Regions from separate parts of the Homo sapiens genome. Here all the other regions are linked to region 2. The links come from fine-mapping of genetic effects on gene expression. A gene starts in region 2. Each other region holds a variant in brackets. All regions are shown on one strand. Distances are from middle to middle. Region 1 overlaps LOC105377509 (a long non-coding RNA gene). Region 2 holds the start of GASK1B (golgi associated kinase 1B). Region 3 has its middle 96 kb from the start of GASK1B-AS1.

Region 1 (5,748 bases), 230 kb after region 2:
CCCTATGGGAGTCACTAAAATATAAAGGACATTTTAAGCTAATTATACATTAATTGGCAACTCATCAGCCTGAAAGGTGGGTTATATTCTGTGACTACCATCATCACAAGGATTCTTCTTTAAGAAACTTAATTGTTTCCACATTAGTAAATAAGTAATAGTATTTGTAGTCTTAGAATATTTGAAGCTGAGGTTACTATACTGAGCTAGAGGTTATAGTATCTTTTTTTTTTTTTTTTTTTTTTGAGACAAAGTTTTGCTCTGTCGCCCAGTCTGGAGTGCAGTGGCACGATCTCTGCTCACTGCAACCTCTGCCTCCAGGGTTCAAGTGTTTCTCCAGCCTCAGCCTCCCTAGTAGCTGGGACTACAGGCATGCACCACCGCGTCTGGGTAATTTTTGTATTTTTAGTAGAAACCGGGTTTCACCATGTTGTGGCCAGGGTGGTCTCGAACTCCTGACCTCAGGTGATCTCCCCGCCTCGGCCTCCCCAAAGTGCTGGGATTACAGGTGTGAGGCATTGCATTTAGGTAGTATCTAATTTCTATAATATATCCAGATTCTAGTATACTGGGAAAAGAAAACAACTAGAAATAGTAGTGTGCTAAGTATTTTTATTAGCATTTTAACCATAGAGAGCAAATCTTGAATCTTGCCAAGAGAATTTCAAAAACATCAGACCAATGTTAATTTAGTACAACAAACTGGAGGGAGAGTCAATAGATAACTTATTTATAAATTGGTGTAATTAGAGGATGCTTTCTAGACTTAAGTGAATACCCATATAATAAAGAGTCTGACTTCAAATATATTTTAATATAGTTATTGATATATTTTGCTTTTAGTCCTCCTCACCTCATAGAATAACTTTTTTCTTATATTTTGAACTCAGCTCATAACTTTCTTTAGAAGGCATATTCCTCAATTAAGAAAGATGTGTCATATGACTGGCTACATAATTTTATTAATGTTGGTGTAACATTAATAAACTATAGAAATATTTGGAACAAAATGTTATATTATGTTGACAATGTACCCTTGTGCCTGTTTGAAGTGCCATTTATATCATTACATTTAGTTGGAAATTAATTAGTTTATTATACAATTTAAAATATCTTAATATTTTTAGGAGACAGTTTTATTAGCATGGTTAAGTATCTATAGCATCCAATGTAACCACATTAGAGAAAGAAAAGGTAACAGATGATGAGCAAACAGCTGGGAAGGAAACAAGAGGGCCCAGACTGCCTTAGTTTTAGTTGAGAAGAAAATATGTTTCAGTAAAATTCAGTGCTAGGGAGGCATTTACAATAATTCATTATGGCCCCAACAGTTTATCTTCAGGAAGAGAGTAGAGGTATGTGAGATGAAGTGATAAGAAAAAAGTTGAGTCAGGATTTTTTTCCCAACATATTTAAAAACTGTGGAAATTCCCTCCACATCCAATTTTGTGTCATCAAGAACAGAAATTAAAGAAGGCTTGATTTATTATCTAGTCTCCGAATACACAGTACCTTCCAGATGACAGAAAAGAACTATTAATCAGGTTCAGAAGATTAAATCAACATTCTTGGTAATAGAACATAGTGTGAAATTTTTGTGTTATCAGATTTGTGCAATCACATTAAGGGCTTTGAGATGCCATATAAAATCGTATTTTTTTCTGAATTGTCAAATATAAACTAACTAAAAAACTCTTAAGATGATTTTCTAAATTGTGTGTACTCTACAAGTGACAATCAACTGGTATTTCTGAGAACAGGAAAATAAATCAAGTTGATCCAGGTAACATGAATGAAATTAAATTCATATGGTATTCTTGGATCATTTAGAAATGACTTTTCTTTTATATTTTTAAAAATATAAAAATTTTTATATTTTTAAATTTTAAAAACAATTTTAAAATTTTAAAAAGAAATGACTGTTATTTTTTTAAAATAGAAATATATATAACATGGAAGAGAAATTAGAATTTAAAAAATCTCATATTAAAGTCTATACATGTTTATAATAATAATATGTAGCATAATACCATTTGCATCATCTAGCAATTTATTATAGATGTGTTTTTTCTTATTGATTGGCTGCTAAGGTATCCCCCAACACACTCTCAGCAAATCTATCAGGGAAAGGAGGCATTTTTAGATATCTCCTTAACCAATTCATTTGTACTTATAAATAACAAAAAACAAACTTGACCACCTTAAATTAGTTCATCATCAAATTGCATTCCCTTTCCTTGAAAAAAAATATGATATATACATTTTTCTTTTTTGGTCTTGGCCAATGCCTGTCTGAATGAGTGCAGGGATTTTCTTATTGGACCCATTACCTCAACCACCACCTCACTAAGGCAAATCCTCATCAACATTAAGATCTTGAGCTGAGTGCCAGAAAAAGTGTCTTATTATCTCACAGACTTTCTTGAAGATTATCATTTTTATTGCCTTCCATCCTTTTTAAAATAATTTTTCTGAGAAGCAGAGTATTTTGTTTTTCAGATATTTAAATAGAAATTTGAAGACCACTTTAAAACTCATAAGAAACGAATAAAATCTATCAACTATTAGTTATTTAGTTTGGATTTATTCCATGCAATAAATAAATCAACTGACTTTAAAAAATACAAGCAAAAACATTACTATGCTTGGTGTTACCCCACCCTAAGTCTGTAGAACTTGGGCTAGTCCCACATAGAGAAACCAGTCACCAACATAATTTTCTTTCCTTTTGAAGGCCTCTTTAAAGAGATGATAATGCTCCTGCTTTCCTGACTAATGCGTAGACCTGAGCTCAGTGCTTGAGGAGAAAATCATCTCTTATATTCTCACTCAGTCACCTCAGGCTGTCTTCTTTTCTATTGTTTGCCTTGATTCATCTTACCCCCATGTATAAACCTGTCTCTTGAATCCACTGCTGTACAGCTGTCCATACTCTTAATTATTCTAACTCTGGGTTTTCTCAACTAGGCCTTCCACATTTGCAGAGCTAAGTAAATTTGTTTTCTAATCATAGGAAATCAAA[T/A]GATCCTGCTTCATGTAGATATGGCCTATGAATATAAATACCTAAAATTTTACCTCTGACAGACATGTTTTGGATATCCAGGTGTTTATTTAGTTCTCATTTCATATGAGAACCCCGAGTGCCATTACATGAAAGAGCACTTTCAAATTGTAAATTTTAAATGCAGCCACAGGAATGAGAAGAATGAAAATGTCATTACCTTAGAAGTAGTGAGCACAAAGTAACAATAGTCAGGTTAATTAAAACCCAGTCAAAATAAAGGAACACTGGAAGGACACCTCAGAAACTAAGAACAGTGTTTACCTAATGAGGTGTGGGGATGGGAACTCCTCAGAAATGGGAAAGGATGGCGGAAGAAACGTTTTATCATGGAGCTGATTATATCTTCTGGACTTGGATCTATAGGAATGTATTGGCTATTCAAATAATTAAAAATTAGTAAAGCAATACATGGACTGTTTAACAAGACCCGATCTTCTGTTTTCTTACACTGTTCTTTCTATTTGCAATTACAATGTTGTGAAACAATGGCGTGGCAGTTTCTGTGCTGCACCATGGTGGAAATGAGACTACTCTAGGTCACAGCCTTAGCTCTGTTAAAAAGGCGGTGACTTTCCTACAACTGGGAGGAGATGCTGGCTGGTGGGATGTAGCAGCCTTGAGTCAGGGCAGTGACAGTAGAAAGTGAAGAAAATGGGGAAATGTCTCTGTTTAATGGCTGTGAATTCTAGAGAGACATGAGGAAACCAATAAAGTTTTGTCTCATGCTATACACAGAAGATTCTAGGACTTGTATCATAAATGTTGAACCCACTCTCTCAACTGACCTCCACAAGGCACTGTGAACACTCCTACTCTTTCTTGAATGCTTTTAAACAAGTCTGTGTTAATGGGCCAAGTCTGGCCTGCCATCTATTTTTATAAATAAGCTTGTATTGTAACTCAATCAAGTTCATTTGTTTACATGTTGTCTATGACCACTTTTGCACTAAAGTGGAAGAATTGAGTAATTGCAATAGAGACTATATGGCTCACAAAACCTAAAATATTAATATCTGTCTCTTAACAAATAAAAATTTGCCCATCTCTGCTCTGAAAGAATGTAAGTTTTTCTACACAGTGTGACATCACTGGGCAGTTAATGTCATAAACTTACTGGACACAGGCATTTTTCAGTAGGTTTCCACTCCTCATAGTCTGGAGATGGTGTTCCACACACAAGAAGAAAGAAAGAAAGGAAAGAAGAGAGGGAGGGAAAAAGGTAGAGAAGAAGGAAGAGAACAGAAGAGTGATACGTTGATCTAGATTACCATAGAAACAGTCTCTGAGATGGAGATTTGCTTGCAGAAAATGCTTTGAGGAATGCCCTCAACACTACAGAGAGAGAGAGAGGAGTGGGATTAGGGAGAGGCAGAAGTTAAACTGTAATGCATGGCCTGCATTCCTGCCACCATGGCTTCTCCATGGTACTCCCATTGTGCCAGCATTGGAATTTCAATGGCACAGGGAGAGTGATGTGAACTAGCCCTGGTCACTCTGTTTACTGGGTTGTTTAATGCCCCTTCAATGGTAGATGCATTTTGGGGGGATGATATGAGATCTTTATACTTCATGTCCACCTGTTTAAGGCCATCCTCACGCATCATTCATCCTTGCCTTGATATTCTACTCTTTTTCTTTCAGGCACCTATCCAGTAGCCAAGCCATTAAGCACTACCTTTGAGCCATATGTTTATCCTGCAGGCTATTTTTCTTTCTACAAAGTGGATGACTAGGTTACATGATCAAGGCTATGTACATTGGGAAGATTTACTTTTGCTGTTGTCGTTCACCTGGGGAGGGGGCCATAGCATAGTGAAGCCACAGTCCATTTTTGATTGGTACTCCCATGTCAAGCCGTGATGTCATTAATATAGTGGACCAACATAATATTCTGAAGAATGTACAAATATGTTAATGAATGTGTTTCCATATATATATATATTTTACTGATAGAATGTTTTCTGAAATATTTGTAAAATATGTAAGAAATTATAAAAAATGACTTTTGTTCTGTTTGAAAATATTTTTTGTAGTTTAGTTGCAATTCACAAAAATAAAAATAATTGTATAGAGTCTGCTACAGGTTGATTGTTTATTCCATCCAAAACTCATGTTGAAACTTAATCCTCAATGTGACAGTATTGAGAGAGGTGGGGCCTTTAAGAGGTGATTGGGTCATGAGAGCTCTGCCTTCATAAATGAATTAATCTATTCATGGGTTACTAGGTTACTGGATTAATGGGTTAATGAATTAATAAGTTATCATGGGAGTGGGACTGGTGGCTTTATAAGACAAGGAAGAGAAATTTGAGCTAGAACTCTCAGCCCCCACACCATGTGATACCTGTGTTGCCCCTGGACTCTGCAGAGTCACCACCAGTAAAAAGGTCCTCACCAGATGCAGCCCCTCAACCTGGAACTTCTCAGCCTTTAAGCCATAAGAAATTCTTTATTTTCTTTACAAATTACCCAATTTCATGTATTATGTTATAAGCAACAGAAAATGGACTAGGAGGAGTCTACTGACTCCAGTAGGAACTGTAGTTAGCAGTACCATCCTTAGACTCTGCCACAGAGATCCCTTCCATGAACCCCACATTTTAGAGGTTCATTGACCACAGCCTACTTCACTGGGAATCTGTATGTCAAAAGGGATGTGTCTGCACTGTTATTACCATCCCCCA
Region 2 (5,748 bases):
GATTTACGGATTACTTCATTGCCAGTGAAACCTAAGACATCATTTAATTGTAAAAAGGTGTTAACTTGCTCCTAGAACTAAGTATTTAACTCATAGTACAGTGAATTATAACTCTGCACATTAGAAGCTTTTAAAACTGTGGATTCCTGGGCCCTACTTTAGATCATTTAGAATCTCTGGGAAGATGGATGGGGTCTAGACACTCATATATTTTTAAAATTTTCAGGGATTTTACTGTTCTTTAATATTTAAACTTAATTTTTAAATGACTGAAGTAATATGCGTTTTTTATTGTAAACAAATTATTTGTTCTACTCTCCTATGTAGATTTATAACATATATACAAGGTATAAAGAATATAAAATAAATAGCTATTTATGTACCACCTTTTCCAATTTGATTGAAGGATAAGATATATATAAATATGGAAAAGTACAGAAATCACAAATGTATAGTCAATGTGTTATCCCAAAATAAACATACTTAGGTAAATCCCATCTAAATGAAGAAACAGAACATTCCCACAATCCTGCTTTGCTCATGTTTTTTCTCCATCACCATCCTTGCCCCTCCATAAAGATATAAAAAGTCCTCAGGTAATTCCGATGGTCCCTACCATTATCTTACTGTCTACTTTTTCACTTTATTTCTCTCATTGTTTTTTAAGAAGAGAAAGTACTTTAGGCATGAGAATTATTTGTCTCTCTGATCTAATAATATTAATAATAATGAATACTTTGAGTTCTATATGTTCACTCACAGATTATATTGTAAGTTATACACGAATGTTATATTGTGGCAACAAATTTTCAAGCTAACGCTTGTTCAAGGAATTTAGCCTTATTTTTCTAAAACTAAATTAAACTTCTCTGTTTCCCATGCTACCTGATGGCAAAAAACACCTTTCCATTCAGTTTCAACAGAGACCATGAGCAATTGATGGCAATTGCTTCCACATTCGAAAATGAGATATGGATCCGCAGTGCTAAGGGAGGTGGGTTGCTGCATTGGGAAGTCTGAGGTTGCTGGAGCAAATGATGGTGACCATGTCCACTGGATCACTTGTGGGGCAGTACACAGAGGCCCAAGTTAGAAAACCAGCCTGCAGGTCAGCTTAAATGCTGCCTAAGAGAACAGCCTGGAGAGATGAGGTGATCTCAACAGAACAGGGGGCTACCAAGTTCCAAGGGACTAAGGGGCCATCAACAGCCAGCTAGAGAGATGCTTTGATAGTGGTGTCTTTGAATTAACTATCTCAGAGTCAGCTTTACACACCTGCCAAACCTGGAGAGCTTATAAGTCAATTTGCAGCAGTATCAATGGAGTAGCAAGGCCATTTCTGCTATTATTGCTTCTCTCTCTCCACTACCTTGGAACAGCCAGAGCCAGGCTCAAAGTGGGGTGAGCGGCTGGGTGAGTGGTTAAGGAATAAGAGCTCTAGGCAGGAACAAAAAAGAATGTAAGATGGGTCTCCTCTGTCCCTTTTCAGTAGATTTTGGCTATGCTTTTTGAGGGACTGCTATCTTCTGGAGAAATTCTGGGAATTTAAAAGAAATTTTTAAAGAAATTGACTGTGATATAGAATCAAACATATTAATTAGTTTATGTGTATTATGTGTCTGTATGTCTATGGCTAACAACTGGAGAACTTTTACAAAAATTTAAGTATGACTGGAAAAGTCATGGGGACTGCCTGAGTTTCCATTTAAGAAAGTTGAAAAGAGATATCAGGCCACAGAACAGGTTTCAATGGGCAGTGGGGGGAATCACTAAAATTGTGCTCTGATTATATCTGACAAGCCCCATTTATCCACTGTATTGGCTATATCAATATGTTGGCTACAAATAATTCAGTGTGCTTGTCCTCAATTCTACCATGATTGCTTTGCTGTGGTGCAGTGGTGACTATCTGTCAAGGCCTGGGCTGAGGAGAGAGGCCTCTGAGCAGTTTAATGAGGCATCATGGGGGATAAAAACAAACACATTGCTGAATATTTCAAATGATCATTCCAAGGCTGCTATCTCATTCAGTCATCAGAAGAAACCGATAGGGTAAGTGCTATTATTTTTCTTTTCTTACACATGGGGGAAACTGAGGCTTAGAGAGGTAAGATTACTTGCCACAGGGGACCACACGTAAGAGGTAAATGAGGAGAATTTAAAGCCAGTCTGCCTCCCTCTTCAGCCCATTCTCTGAATATCATAGTTCAGAGTAGATAGTGTAGCCTCCACGAATCCCTATTGTGGCTATAGCAGGGGACAGTGTATTGTTCTTTTTCTAGGAGACATTTTTGGAGTGGGGGTGGGAAGGTAGTCAACGAAATTTACTAACTCACACAACTCTCCCTATCTCGTAGGCATTTCTCCATGAAAAAAATAGCTCTAAAAACAGCTAGAGGAGATGTCTGCTTATTATAACTGGCCTCTGCCAAAGGCTTACTTTTAATTGTTATAGAGCCAGGTCAGTTATTCCTTTGACTGTGGAAATAATAAGATGGTTATAAAATGCAGCTTTGGTATGGTTTCCTTGCAAGAAGTTCACATTTTCTATCAAGAAAATAATTCTGTGTGTATGGAAGTGTGTGCCTAAGAGTTTTTGAGTGCAGATAAAATTGTTTTGATGCCTGAATTCTCACAAAGTTTAGCCAAAATATCCAGGTACTTCCAGGCTACTGTCAATATTGGGATTGCTCCTTCTCATTCCTCCATGTGGCAGGACTTTTAAAGAGGAAAAAAGGACTGAGTTTAGAGTGCTGAAATAACAGCCCGATTATAATTTTTGTCAATTTACCACTTGGACGTTTATTCTCTCCTTCCCTATATATTCCAACTCCTTGCTCTTTTTGCATTGTAAAATATAGTATTTTTAGGATTATACACCATATGCTAATCTTTTACCCACTCTTCAGTATCACAACTTTCTTTCTCTGTGGGGAGGAAAAATCCCTGTCCCCTTTCTGTCTTCTTGCCTTTTGATTCTATTTGCCATAGTCTAATTGACACCCCAAGGTCATCAGCCCCTGCCTTTGTGCTAGGACACGCAAACCACCCAGGCCAATCCCTAACCTGTTTTTTCAAAAAACCTCCAATCAGAGAGAATCCACGACTTCCTTTTGTGAACTGTTGCACCGTGCAATTGCACACTATAAATGTCTTTCCTTATCTGTGTGTACTCTTATCTCACTGTTCTATTTTTTCTCCTCATTTATATTAACTCTTTCTTACCTTTTTTTCTGAACTTCTAGGCCTTCTCTTTCCAGAACTGGTGGAAGACAAATGAAACGGCCAAGATGGTAAGGTGAGTAGTTCCTGGGAACGCTTGTGCTCTAACCCCAAGTTATGTGGGATGGACACTCGAGGGGTGATGGCATTCCTCATTTTACAAGTTACTTGCTTGGCTGCGGCTGCTCCACCAAGATAGCAAACATTCTCGATCTTTTGAACTTCATGAGACTGACATTTCTGAGTCTGTTTGCGAACAGGACACTAGAGGGCTCCCAGGGGTTAAAAATAAGTGGAAATTTATTTGAATGAAAACTGATTCTCTACGGCATTTCTTTTTTCCGAATTTAAAATTAAAGTTTATTTTGTTAACTATTGTTTTTAAAAGCTTTGTATCTCTTAAAACCATGCAGCAGTCAGTTTCCAAGTTTTGCTTTGCAATCAGTAGTTTTCAAGGGAGCTTTTAAAGCTGAACTGAAATGTTTGAAATGTGGAACACTCTTGACCATGAAATATGTTCTACTTACATGCCTCAGCCTTTAAAAGTTCTTTGCATTAGAGTCAAGGATTACATTCTTCCTGGAGCCAAGCATGGGGCCAGCTGTGTAAGTAAGGTTGCTTACGAGTTTCTTCTTTTTCTTTTTAATAGTGAAAAAACAGAACTAGAGATGCTTTTATTTTCTTTCAGCTGACTTCGGTGGAAAGAAAAGAAATAAAAAGCAGTCAGAGTTGTGTTGTGTTGTGTGTGTGTATGTGTGTGAGAGAGAGAGAAAGAGAGAGAGAGAGAGAAACAGAATAAATGCAACTGCTTCCAAGATATATGGACATTTATGGCTTTGTATTATACTAACAATGTAAGCTAATGGAACATATTATTAATATGAAGTACAATTTGTACCTTTAGACTAAGAGAATATGTTTCTAAATTTTATTGTTAATACTTGCTGCTTGTACTTAGTTAATTCAGGACTTTAAAAAATAAAAATGGTATAGGTATAGAGTATTAAAAAATTATCTATTACTTGTCTTAAGTTCTTTCTGAATTTCAAAAAGGAAAAGCCCAGGTTTGTCACATTTTAACGCTTTTGCTTCAGAGTCAACTTAAATGACTCTAGGTACAAGTTATAAAACACTCTTGGATTTTTGTGGCTTGTTTTCACTACTTTCAAGTGACTATCAAATCTATACATCTATCTCGTTTGCATGCTTTTAAATTTTATTTTTAAAAACATTTAGTGGTGATATTTATGAAAGGAAATGATTACTTTTTTTCTTGACTCTTGTAGAGGAACTTAAATGGTTTGAAATTGTGACTCAGTTAACTCTGTATCCATTCATTCCCAGAAACAAGCCGCATTTCTCCTTGGGGAGACTGATAATTTAAAAGGTTTGTTGTGTCAGAAACATTCCCAGCTTCATCACCAACCCTTTCCTTCCACCTCTGCCCACTGGAGACCACTTATATCCCGAAGCGGACGCGGCAGCTGAAGTCAGGAAACCATGCATCACATTAGCAGGAGCCAACTGCAGACTTTAAACTCCGTTCAACATGTGGATGCGGCAGAGAAATGACCTGTCCAGACAAGCCGGGGCAGCTCATAAACTGGTTCATCTGCTCCCTGTGCGTCCCGCGGGTGCGTAAGCTCTGGAGCAGCCGGCGTCCAAGGACCCGGAGAAACCTTCTGCTGGGCACTGCGTGTGCCATCTACTTGGGCTTCCTGGTGAGCCAGGTGGGGAGGGCCTCTCTCCAGCATGGACAGGCGGCTGAGAAGGGGCCACATCGCAGCCGCGACACCGCCGAGCCATCCTTCCCTGAGATACCCCTGGATGGTACCCTGGCCCCTCCAGAGTCCCAGGGCAATGGGTCCACTCTGCAGCCCAATGTGGTGTACATTACCCTACGCTCCAAGCGCAGCAAGCCGGCCAATATCCGTGGCACCGTGAAGCCCAAGCGCAGGAAAAAGCATGCAGTGGCATCGGCTGCCCCAGGGCAGGAGGCTTTGGTCGGACCATCCCTTCAGCCGCAGGAAGCGGCAAGGGAAGCTGATGCTGTAGCACCTGGGTACGCTCAGGGAGCAAACCTGGTTAAGATTGGAGAGCGACCCTGGAGGTTGGTGCGGGGTCCGGGAGTGCGAGCCGGGGGCCCAGACTTCCTGCAGCCCAGCTCCAGGGAGAGCAACATTAGGATCTACAGCGAGAGCGCCCCCTCCTGGCTGAGCAAAGATGACATCCGAAGAATGCGACTCTTGGCGGACAGCGCAGTGGCAGGGCTCCGGCCTGTGTCCTCTAGGAGCGGAGCCCGTTTGCTGGTGCTGGAGGGGGGCGCACCTGGCGCTGTGCTCCGCTGTGGCCCTAGCCCCTGTGGGCTTCTCAAGCAGCCCTTGGACATGAGTGAGGTGTTTGCCTTCCACCTAGACAGGATCCTGGGGCTCAACAGGACCCTGCCGTCTGTGAGCAGGAAAGCAGAGTTCATCCAAGGTAACAGATTCACATGCTTCGTTATTTGCAGCTGTTGGGGATTCTGGT
Region 3 (5,748 bases), 99 kb after region 2:
AATCGAGACCATCCTGGCTAACATGGTGACATCCGTCTCTACTAAAAATACAAAAAATTAACCGGGCGTGGTGGCGGGCGCCTGTAGTCCCAGCTACTCGGGAGGCTGAGGCAGGAGAATGGCGTGAACCCGGGAGGCGGAGCTTGCAGTGAGCCGAGATCGCGCCAGTGCACTCCAGCCCGGGAGACAGAGCCAGACGCCGCCTCACACACAAAAAAAGACATTAGAAAAAGAAGAACAAATTAAGCCCAAAGTAAGAAAAGAAATAATAAAGACCAAAGTGGGTATCAATGAAATAAAGACAATAAAATGGAGAAAATCAATAAAAGTTGGTTTTCTGAGAAGTCTAATAAAATTGATGAAACTTTAGCCATACTAATTAGGCAAAAAACAGAGAAGTCAGAAATCTCAGGAATGAAATGGTTGACTTCACTGAGTATCCAATAGCTATTAAAAGGATAGAAAGGAGATATTATGAAAAACTTTATACGTACAAATTTTAGAACTTTGATGAAATGAATGGATTATTTGACAGACACAAACTACTAACGCTCACTCAAGAAGACAAACTAAATAGCCCTATATCCATCAAAGTATTAGAATTTATAGCAATTTTTTTCCAACAAAGCAAACTGTAGGCCCAAATGGCTTCAATAATAAATTCCATTAATACTTAAGAAAAATATAAACTTACACAAACTCTTCCATGTAATTGAAAAGCAGCGAATATATCCTAACCCTTTCACTGAGGTCATCATTACTCTAATACAAATACAGGAAAGAAAAAAAATACAAGAAAAAGGCATTCCAATGAAAGAAAATTACAGAACATACCCTTTATTAACATAGACACAACATTTCTAAACAAAGTGTTAGCAAATTGAATCTAACAATATATAAAGAGAATAATACAAAATAATGAAGTGGTGTATATTGCAGGAATGCAGGATTTGCTTAATACCTGAAAATCAGTCAATGTAATCACTGTATTAAAAACTAAAAACTACCAAAAAAGCCATATAATCATCTAAATAAATACATGAACTTAACAGTATTCATCATCCATTCCTGGTAAAAACTATCAGTAAACTAGGAATAGAAGAGAACTTCCTACACTGATAAACTATTTTCTCCTAAGATCAAGAATAAAAAAAGAATGTTTGTTCCTACCAATTCTATCCAATACTGTATGGAAAATTGTGGCCAGTGCATTAGCAAGAAAAAAAAAAAGACATTCAAATTGGAAAAGAAATAAAACTGTCTTTATTAGCAGATGCTATTATTATCTGTGTAGGAAGTCCAATGGAATCTACAAAAAAAAAAAAGACTATAACTAATAAATTTAGCAAGGTTGCAGAAAGTAAGGTCAGTAGTCAACAATAATTTATTGTATTTCTATACTAGCAATAAATAATCATAAATTGATAAAAAAGTGCCATTCACAGTAGCCTCAAAAAGTAAAATACAAAGGACATGAAAGATTCATTTACTGAAAACTACAAAGTATTGAGAAAAATTAAAGAAGACCTAAATAAATGGCAGTATATACCCCGCTACCTTATTTATGTGTCAGAACATTCAATATTGGTAAAATGTCAATTCTCCTTAAATTCATAAATAGATTAAATGGAATCCTAATCAAAATTCCAGTAAGATTTTTTTTTTTGTAGAAACTGAGAAGCTGATTCTAAAACTCATATAGGAATACAAAAGACTTAGAATAGCCAAAACAACTGAAAAAAGGGAACAAATTTGGAAGACTAATGCTATAATACCTAGTTTCAAAACCATTTATAAAGCTACAGAAATCAAAGAATTTCACACAGCCATAAAGATAGACAAACAGATCAATGGAAAAGAATAGTGTCCAGAAATAAACCCACACATATGTGGACAATCAATTTTTGAGGAAGGTGAAAAAATGAAAAAATTCCATGGAGAAAAGATAGCCTTTACAACTGATGTTGGCACAAGTGTATATCCATATGCAAAAACAAATACACAAAACCCCATATATTTTGGTTCATACTGTATTCAATTATATAAAGAAGTTAATTCAAAATGAATCACAGACCTAAGTGACAAATCTAACATGATAATAATTCTAGATGTAAATAGAGAGGATAATCTTGTATCTAATGTTAGGCAAAGAAATCCTAGATAGAACATACCAGCAAAAGCACAATCCGTGAAAGAATAATACAAGAAGATACAAGGACATGTATCTGGGATATGTAAAGAACTCTCAAAACTCAATAATAGTAAGAATGATAATAAAGGACCAACCCAATAAAAAGTAGGCAAAAGACTTGAAGATTTACAAATGGCAAAAAA[T/A]CACCTAAAAAGATGTTCACTTATTAATTATTAAGCAAATGCAAATTAAAACCACAATGAGAAGTCACTACAGACCATGCAAAAATGGCTAAAATTTAAAAACTGACCATACAAAGAGTATGGGCAAGAATGTGGAGGAACTGAATACCGGCATACTGATGGTGGGATTGTGAAATGATACTGCTACTTTGGAAAACAGTTTGACAGCATCTTTGAAAGTGACATGCAACTACCAGATGATCCAGCCGTGTAGTTCCTAGGTTTCTACCCAAGAAAATTACTCAAAGACTTGTACACAAATGTTCATAGCAGCTTGATTTGTAATAACCAGAAACTGGAAACAATCCACATGTCTATCAACATGTGAATGGGTAAACAAGTGGTGGTATATTCTTACAACGTAACACGACTGAGCGACAAAATGTAATGAACTATTAATACAAAGACCAAAATGGATGAATTTTAAGATAATTAGGATTAGGGGAAGAAACCAGACAGAAAATAAATACATACTTTATAATTCCATTTACATATAACTCTAGAGAGTGCATGCTAGTCCATAGTAACATAAAAGAAATTCGTGTTTACCTGAATAGGGGAGTATGAAAGAAATTACACATTTATGAGTGATGGAAACATACAGTATTTTGATGGTGGTGATAAGCTTCATGGGTTTATGCATATGTCACTCTGTATGGGCTGTGAGGATTAAATGCATGTAAGTATGTGCAGGAAAAATCTAAAAAATGTAAAAAAGTTTATACTTATTAAATATTAATAAAATATCTGAATTGAATTATTTCCCATATCAAAGTTTTTATAATTTTTCAACTACTTTTTTACAGATAGAACCTTTCTTCTCATCTTCAGTAGTTTTGTTTTTCATCCTCTGCCTTCCATGAGTTCTTTTGTTGACTTCTCTTTTTATAGTTATTCTAATAATGCGTTCATAATGCCATGGAGATCCACTTCTTTTGCTGCCATTGACTTTCTTTGTCAGTGAGGGCAGTAGGCAGTGTAATGGTTTCTGGATTTAAAAAATCAACCTAGTAAATACCTTTTGGATGAAGAAGTGTATTGCTAAACAGATGATCAGAACGTCTCTGCTTTCAACAAACTCTATTAAAGTGTCACATATGATTGATCAGCTTTTACATTAAGAAACCTAACATTTAGCATGTAATAAGTAACAATAGGATTAAACTCACTGTCCCCTTAATTAATAAAAATAATTCATAATAAGGAGATTCCTGATTACATTGGACGCTTTAGAATAATAACAGGGAAAATGTAGGCTATTTCATAATTCTAACCCTTGGAGTTTTTCATTTTCAGTGGCTAATGAAAGAGTGAAATAATCTACAAAATCCTATCTGCTCATAGATGGTGTAACTGGGACTCCTGTAAGGAAATATCAGAATTGTAGTCTTCTTAACTCACGCAGGGGTGTTAGAGGTGGGATGGAAAGTAGGGAGAACTGTGCAGTGGGTCAACTCAAAGAATCCAATCTTGGAGTTCTGCCTTTGCTTTCCAGTATAGAAAGGAGACACAGGCTGGAGAAATCTAAAGATGAGGCAGCATAATTATAGCAAGTCTCTCAGTTCGGAAGGGCTATGTTGGTGGCACAAAATAGCCCAGCAATTTTCTCTCCGCTAAATGAAAGAGAAGGGAAGTATAAAGAGCAGTAGTGATTATTTAATAAGGGTTAAGAGCAACTAGAGACAAATAGCATTTCATCATTGCCCTGTAATAATACTTTTTATTCCTTGTGTGTATAGACAAACATGTAAATAAAAAAGTTTACATATACATTTATTTTCATAAACTGTTTTTTAGAGATGTGTACATAAATAGCGTAGCAACAGCTTATGTTGATGTTTTTCAACCACAGCGGGTCATATTAAACCTGTTAGGGGAAGAGGGTGGAATCAACAATTTTCCTCAATACAGTCTACACTTTAAGAAATATAGAAGTATTACTTTGTATAGCAATTCATGATTGCTTCAATATGTGACTATGTGTGGTCTACTGCTTTAGAATATTGTGAGCCAGGCTTCCTGCCTTCCTTCTCTTTCTTTCTCTCTTTCTTTCTCTCTTTCTCCCCTTCCTCCCTTCCCTTCCCTTCCCTTCCCTCCCCTCCCCTCCCCTCCCCTCCTCTTTCTTTCTTTTCTTATTTTCTTTCTTTCTTTCTTTCTTTCTTTCTTTCTTTCTTTCTTTCTTTCTTTCTTTCTTTCTTTCTTTCTCTCTCTCTCTCTCTCTCTTTCTTTCTTTCTTTCCTTCTTTCTTTCTTTCTTCGACAGGGTCTCACTTTGTCACCCAGGCTGGAGTGCAGTGGTGCAATCACAGCTCACTGCAGCCTCAACTTCTCAGGCTTAAGTGATCCTTCTGCCTCAGCCTCCTGAGTAGCTGGGAATACAGGCGTGCACCACCACGCCTGGCTGGATTTTGTATTTTTTTTTTTTTTTTTTTGTAAAGACAGGGTTTTGCCATGTTGCCCAGACTGGTCTTGAATCCTGGGCTCAAGCAATCCACCTCCTCAGCCTTCCAAAGTGCTGGGATTACAGGCCTGAGCCACCACACCCTGAGTTATCATTTCCTTATCAATCACTTTTCTTATAGAATTGCTTGTAGTCATCTATAGTCTGAATTGTAACCACTGTTCTAGACAGTTTTGTCTGTTATATGGGTTAAGAACCTATAAAAACTGTTTCCATTTTGGGTTTTCTGTGTCACTATGGAAACTATCCATGAGTTAAGTGTTTGCGAATGATTTGTAGTCTTTGAGGAAGCAAACTTTGAATGAAATAAATCTCTTCATGACCCATTTTTTTTCAAAAGGGTTTTGTTTGTTTATAGTTTTTTACCTTCCTTTTTTTTTTTTTTTTAGAGACAGGGTTTCACTATGTTGCTGGGGCTGGACTCAAGCAATCCTCCTGCCTCAGCCTCCCAAGTAGCTGGGATTACAGACCCACACTACTGCATCTAGCCCCATTTTTTTTTTGTGTGTGTGAAAACTGTATAATTTTTTTCCCCTTAAAATTCAGTGTCCAGTTTTGTTCTTTTAGTTTTTGTTTCTTTCGTTTGGTTACTGATGTGCTTTCAATTTTTGCTTTATCTATCTCACTAACTCTTTGCAAATTCCTCTGCTTCCTCTTATGCAGTTATGTGACAGCATTGAACAGCTGTCACGGCCTGTCTCCGAAGTGACCATTCCTGATCTGACATTTATTCAGTCCAGAATTTCAAATAGACAAAGATCCTTTCAACATCATATGTGGCCAAGATGCTCCTCTTTTTCTAATAATTTCTTGGCATGAAATTAATTTTTCGTTCCTTTTTATAGTAAAATTTAGATGAAGCTAAGTTGGCATAACATTATTATTCATAAAGCATAACCAAAGTATTTAAATCAA

What was found. PIP is the estimated chance that this variant, and not a neighbour inherited with it, causes the effect. A credible set is the group of variants that fine-mapping cannot tell apart.
Region 1: its variant is the best candidate, but not a certain one, in a credible set for the expression of GASK1B in whole blood (INTERVAL, PIP 0.68).
Region 3: its variant is the best candidate, but not a certain one, in a credible set for the expression of GASK1B in whole blood (INTERVAL, PIP 0.79).

What each region holds. Positions count from the first base shown.
Region 1 is chr4:157,944,192-157,949,939 of GRCh38, reverse strand. The region is part of intron 2 of LOC105377509 (a long non-coding RNA gene); the gene reads left to right. Among named protein-coding and RNA genes, the nearest start is that of GASK1B-AS1, 220 kb to the left of the region's middle. The variant T/A (reference allele first, on the strand shown) is at 3,023.
Region 2 is chr4:158,170,418-158,176,165 of GRCh38, reverse strand. It overlaps GASK1B (golgi associated kinase 1B), which reads left to right and starts at 3,141. Exons shown (of 5, transcript NM_001128424.2): 1 at 3,141-3,298; 2 at 4,567-5,700. The coding sequence starts at 4,791. It overlaps GASK1B-AS1 (GASK1B antisense RNA 1), which reads right to left and starts at 5,414. Exons shown (of 5, transcript NR_147410.1): 1 at 4,686-5,414. LOC101928007 (a long non-coding RNA gene) reads left to right here. Exons shown (of 4, transcript XR_007058350.1): 3 at 1,900-2,052; 4 at 2,358-2,478. RefSeq lists enhancers at 3,765-4,964, 5,138-5,658.
Region 3 is chr4:158,071,902-158,077,649 of GRCh38, reverse strand. No RefSeq gene overlaps it. Among named protein-coding and RNA genes, the nearest start is that of GASK1B-AS1, 96 kb to the left of the region's middle. The variant T/A (reference allele first, on the strand shown) is at 2,335.